2 separate regions of the Homo sapiens genome follow, and region 1 is linked to region 2. Evidence: fine-mapped expression QTL. A gene starts in region 2. The other region holds a variant in brackets. All regions are shown on one strand. Distances are between the middles of the regions.

The links. PIP is the estimated chance that this variant, and not a neighbour inherited with it, causes the effect. A credible set is the group of variants that fine-mapping cannot tell apart.
Region 1: its variant is the best candidate, but not a certain one, in a credible set for the expression of HADHA in whole blood (Lepik 2017, PIP 0.85).

Annotation. Positions count from the first base shown.
Region 1 is chr2:25,627,917-25,630,829 of GRCh38, reverse strand. It overlaps DTNB (dystrobrevin beta), which reads left to right. Exons shown (of 21, transcript NM_021907.5): 4 at 2,446-2,659. Among named protein-coding and RNA genes, the nearest start is that of DTNB, 44 kb to the left of the region's middle. The variant A/G (reference allele first, on the strand shown) is at 1,213.
Region 2 is chr2:26,243,135-26,246,047 of GRCh38, reverse strand. HADHA (hydroxyacyl-CoA dehydrogenase trifunctional multienzyme complex subunit alpha) reads left to right here and starts at 1,416. Exons shown (of 20, transcript NM_000182.5): 1 at 1,416-1,518. The coding sequence starts at 1,452. It overlaps HADHB (hydroxyacyl-CoA dehydrogenase trifunctional multienzyme complex subunit beta), which reads right to left and starts at 1,109. Exons shown (of 16, transcript NM_000183.3): 1 at 1,058-1,109. RefSeq lists enhancers at 1-81, 940-1,039, 894-1,574.

The DNA of each region.
Region 1 (2,913 bases), 620 kb after region 2:
TCTTGTTGCCCAGGCTGGAGTGCAGTGGTGTAATCTTGGCTCACTGCAAGCTCCGCCTCCCAGGTTTAAGCGATTTTCCTGCCTCAGCCTCCTGAGTAGCTGGGATTACAGGCGTGTGCCACCACACCTGGCTAATTTTGTATTTTTAGTAGAGATGGGGTTTCTCCATGTTGGCCAGGCTGGTCTCGAACTCCCAACCTCAAGTGATCCACCCGCCTCGGCCTCCCAAAGTGCTGGGATTACAGGCATGAGCCACCGTCACCGTGCCTGGCCACTTCATCCCTTTTTTTGGTCAAATAGTATTCCATTATATGCATATGCCACATTTTATTTATCCGTGTATCTATATTGATGGACATTTGGGTTGTTTTCACTTTTGGCTTTTATGAATAATGCACCTATGAACATTTGTACAAGATTTTGTGTAGACATATGTTTTCAATTCTGTAGGAGTGGAATTGCTGGGTCGTATGGGACCTGTGTGTAACTTCTTAAGGAACTCCTAAATTGTTTTCCAAAGCAGCTGCATGCTTTTGCATTTGCACCAGCAGTTTATGAGAATTTCAACTTCTCTACATCCTCGCTGACCCTTGTTTTCCATTTAAATAAAAAGTCTAGCTATTCTGGCTGGTGTGAAGTGGTATGTTATCGTAGTTTTCTTTTGCATTTCCCTAAATGACTAATGATGTTGAGCATCTTTTCATGTGCTTGTTGGCCATTTGTATATCTTCTTTGGATAAATATCTATTTAAATTATTTTCCCATTTTTAAATTGGGTTATCTTTTTTTAATTGTTGAATTGTAAGAGTTTTTATGTGTCTGGATCCCAGACCCTTAATGGATGCATGGTTTACAAATATTTTTTTCCATTCTTTGGGTTGCCTTTTCACTTTCTTGATAGTATCCTTTGAAACACAGACTTTTAAAATTTAAATAAAATGCAGCGTATCTCTTTTTTGCTGCCTGTACTTGAAGTGTCTTGTTCCTGATCTTGAGGGGAGAGCTTTCAGTCTTCCCTGATTAAGTATGATGTTGGCATTGGGATTTGTTGTAGATGCCCTTTATCAGGTTGAGGAAGTTTTCTTCTGTTTTTAGTTTGTTGTGTTTTTATTATGAAAGGGTATTTGATTTTTCCAAATGCTACTTCTATGTCTATTGAGTTGATCATATGGTTTTCCAAGCTCCGCCCTCCCCCCTTTTTTTCCTGTTACG[A/G]ATAAAGTTACATCACCTTTGTTTTGGTTGAAAATTGTCATCCACTTATATTTAAATCTTTTTTATGTCCTTTTGTTTTAGACATATCCCTTACAAACAGCGTATAATTTGGTTATTTAAAAAATTGTGAATTTGTCAGTCTTTGTCTTGTAAGTGGTACGTTAGTGTGTTTATAGTCACTGCAGTTAACTGACATATTTGGGTCCGCACCAGCCATCTTTTCTTGTGCTATTTTTGCTGCTTGTTCTGTGTTTCTTGCCTTCTTTTGAATAGTTGTGTTTTCCTAATTTCAGTTCTTCCCCTAGTTTTTCAGCGTTGGAAAGTATACTTTCAGATTTCCTTTACTTGAAAATGTCTTTATTGAACCTTTTTTCTTGAAAGTTTTTTTATACTAGGTGTAGAATTTTGTTGGTGGTTTTGATTTCTTTTCAACACATTAAAATTATTTTGCAGTCTTCTGCTTCCTTTGTTGCTTGAAGTCAGGCATCATTCTTAATTATTTTTCTTTCAAGGAAATGTCTCTTTTCTGTGTAGTTGAGTATTGTTTACTTTTTTTGTGCACTTAAGAAGTTTTTATATTCCATCCAGGAATTTTTGTCGTTTTCAAGAAGAGTGTAGACCCAGCTACCGCGCCTACTTTATTACTGGAAATGGAATTTAAAAGAAAGTCAGCCTCTTAAATAATGGAGGAAATATGCAGTAGATAAATTTATTTTTGGCTGAGCTATGAGTTGTTCAGAGCTCTGAGTAGCCTCTAAAGCATATTAATATTTTACTTAATGCAGTTGTATTTGTCTCTCTCTTTAGGGTCATACAGTAAAGTTTCAGTTGTAAAATGTTGCTTTAGTTGCTCGGCTAAAGTAATACAGTAAAGCTGACTCAAGGTAATACAGCAAATTTTCAAAAAGACTAGAAGTTCTTAGGAGTAGTTCTTGATCTTTTTATCAAGTTATCCATTGTTAGGAATTGCATGGGTCACTATTTGCAGAGACGTGAAATACTCGCTATTTAAATGTGAAGGCTGGAAGTAGTCCTTCCCATACCGCTGTGGTGGCTCCTTGATGTTGTCTGGGACTGATGTTCTTTATTTGACCACAGAATGTTTTCCTCATTGTTGGCTAAAGAGTTTCTTCTCTTTAAACTTAAGAACTAGTTGATAAATTTTAGATTCCTATTGTGAAGGGTAGTACCACACTTTAAAATTGTTGACAGTTTATTTTCTTTGTCTTTTAGTTCATCTTGTTGATATCTGGAACATGATTGAAGCCTTCCGAGACAATGGCCTTAATACACTGGACCATACCACCGAGATCAGTGTGTCCCGCCTCGAAACTGTCATCTCCTCCATCTACTATCAGTTGAACAAGCGCCTTCCTTCTACTCACCAAATTAGTGTGGAACAATCTATCAGCCTCCTCCTCAACTTTATGATTGCTGCATATGACAGGCTAGTAGTACCTTACCTTACACGCTTACTTCATTTTAAGAACACCTGTCTCTGAATCATTCTTCTTCCATACTGCCGTGCTAAGTTGCCTTGCTAAGCTGGCAACTTAGAATCATGATTAAAAGGGAAATTATTGGCTGGGCACGGTAGCTCACAGCTGTAGTCCCAGCACTTTGGGAGGCCAAGGAGGGCAAATCACAAGGTCAGGAGATGGAGACCATCCCGGCTAACACGGTGAAACCCCGTCTCTACTA
Region 2 (2,913 bases):
ACTTGAGCTTTAAACAGAAACCTCTCTACTCTGTCTCTATACTCATTTCAGTCTTAACTTCGATGCCCCTTGTTTCCTGTCCTGCAGAGCTGTCAGTCTGGCGAGTAGTGAGACTCAGACTTATGTCTGAATGCTAGGTCTGTCACAGACTAGAAAATGTATATATTCTGAGCTTCCCAAACTTCATCTAGAAAATGCAAATGATAATAATTTGGGGAATGTGAGGACTAAACAAAAAGGTATGAAGGTGACCAGAGCACAGCAGGCTCTCAATGTGACTTCCTTTTGAAATCAATCACTTTATTCCAGGACTCCAGCCCATCATTCCAGCACAAAAACAGCTACCATGCAATGAAGAACTCTTCACTAGGAGTTAGTAGACTTAGGCTCCAGTCTTATTTCTACTACATATGGCCATGGGTAAAATCACTCTCTCTGATTCGTAGGCAGTTTCTTCACCGCTTAAGTGAGCTGAGGTGTGAACGACCAGATAGATAATCATCCAGATCGGAAAACCCCCGAGAGCGCAGGATTATCTGGATAACGGAGCCGGATGGAGGATTGTCTCCGTTCCTCCCACACTCAAGCCCCGAAAGGTCACCTGACCTAGTCTTATTCTTTACAGCAGAAATCGGGCAAACCCATGGCGCCGTCCACAATCTCTATAGCCGCCGACCTGGGTACAGGGGAAGCAGGCGAAACAACACACACTTCTACGCAGACCAGGGTTACATTAAGGCCGACGCCCACACACGCCCACACACACCCACACACACACACACACCCCCACACCCCCAGACTTCGTTAACTTGTGATGATAAATTAGGGCGCAGGTGACACTACTGTCCCGAACTTCAGCTGGAACGCTAGTCCAAGTCACTGTCCTAACTGCAGCTAGCACTGCCGACCTTGTCCGAGGAGTTTCCTTCCGCTCCCTCAACTCCCACTTTCCCAGGGAGGGGAGGGGGCCGGGGGCACCGGCGACAGTTGCGGGGAAGGAAGTGGAATCTCGCCTTTGGGAAAGCCCGGGCGGAGAGCTGAGGGCTCGCCGTCTCACCTTGGCTGACGTCCGCGAGGACTCCCTCTCGGAGCAAGGTTCAGGTCCAAGTACCAAGGCTCTGCGGGACCAAGGGGCGGGTCCTGCCCAGAAAGGGCCCCTCACCCCGCGGGCGGTCAGGGCCGTTCTTGAGGGCTGCCCTCCGGCCGCCTGACTGGAAAACCAGGCACTCCACCCCCTCCTCTCCGGGCCCCCGTCCTCCCCCGGAGAATACGACCTTTCGGCCATGTTAGCCAGGAGCGAGGGGCAGGGCTAAGGGGCCGGCGGCCACTCGGCATCTGGGTTTTAGTCAGGCAGTGCTCCAGGCGCCTGGCTGCCAGGCTACGGGAGAAAAGTCCTCCGCTCGGCCGCACCCGTTAGAGGCGCTCTCCACTGCTGTCCTCTTCAGCTCAAGATGGTGGCCTGCCGGGCGATTGGCATCCTCAGCCGCTTTTCTGCCTTCAGGATCCTCCGCTCCCGAGGTGAGGCCTGGCCGAGGGCATCCCAGACCTCCGGGCAGAACTCCTGCCGGGACTGGGGTGGCCCCGGAGCCGCGTCTCCCTTTCGCTGCCGCCTGCCCCAGCCCGGAGACGCAGCCCTCTGTGGGGATACTGCCCTGGGACCCGGTTTCCCGTGACCTTCTGAAGAGACTGTCACTTCCCCTCTCACGACTCCTGCGGCGATTTCAGGCTTCCTAACTCCCCAACTTTCTGAGTCTGGTGCCACTCGTTCTGTCACCTTTCCGCGGGTCTCTTGCGTCGCACTTCTGGGCTCACGCCCCTCATATTTTCTTGATCCGGAGTTCCAGGAGAATCGGGATCCATTCTGTCGCATCTTTGTGGCTCCACAGCACCTTGCCCCGCAACAAGAGCTGTCTTAAAAACAGCACCTTACCCCGCAACAAGCGCTGTCTTGTATGGGATTAATCAGCCTTGCAGATCACTGCCCCTCCCTGCTCCGTTCCCTCAAAACCATTTTTGTGCTTACTACCCCAATCAAGTAGGGAGCTCAACTCTTGCAGTTTCAGTAATGTCAGTGTGAACGTATAGTATTTTGAATTTCAGCGGGAAGTTCTGCAACTTACTGGAAGACACACTTTAAAAATACGCTAATACCTCTACCTTAAGCAATAAAATGTTAGATCGTTCTGAGAACGATTTGTAATCTGATGATTCCCAGTCAGCCTGTATTAGCTAGTGTTTTTCCTTTTCAAACTGGCAGTGAAAGGGTTAAAGTGGGTGGTTGTAGGAAACGTTGCATTTTCTTTCCATCCCAAATCTGTAAAGTCAAAAGTGGACAACGTTTTATTGCATGTTGTGCTTAATAAGTTACTTAACTAGAAATTTTAACTTTTAATTTAATTTGTAATATGAATTACCTCTCTTCCCTCTTCCGGAACCGCTGAAGTAGTATGCTTTTTTTAGACAAGTAGCTGAAATCCCTTACTGTAAGGGGATTTTTTTAATGATTGAATATTTTTCTGCTCCCTTTTTTCAACAGCTGTTTTTAGTCTCCACAAAACTGTAGCATGTATTTGCCAATTATAACATAAGCACATTATAGAACATTGAAATGCTGTAAGGATTGAGGAAAGAGATGAAAAAAAAACGAATCACCCATTGTCTTACTACTCATATGCTTACCTACGGTTAGCCTTCGGTTATGTTTCCTTACAGGTTTGGTGGTTTTTTTCCCCTATTTTCACAACACTTTTGAAAAGTAACGTGTAATTTTTATCTTACCCCTGCATTGGTTTGAAGGTATTTCTTATGGATCGGCAGCTGATGTCACTCGGAAGTGGTAGCCAGGGCACGTGGTTCTAGTCACTAGCTGTGTTACTTTGGACAAATGCCTTAAACTAAATGGGCTTTATTTTC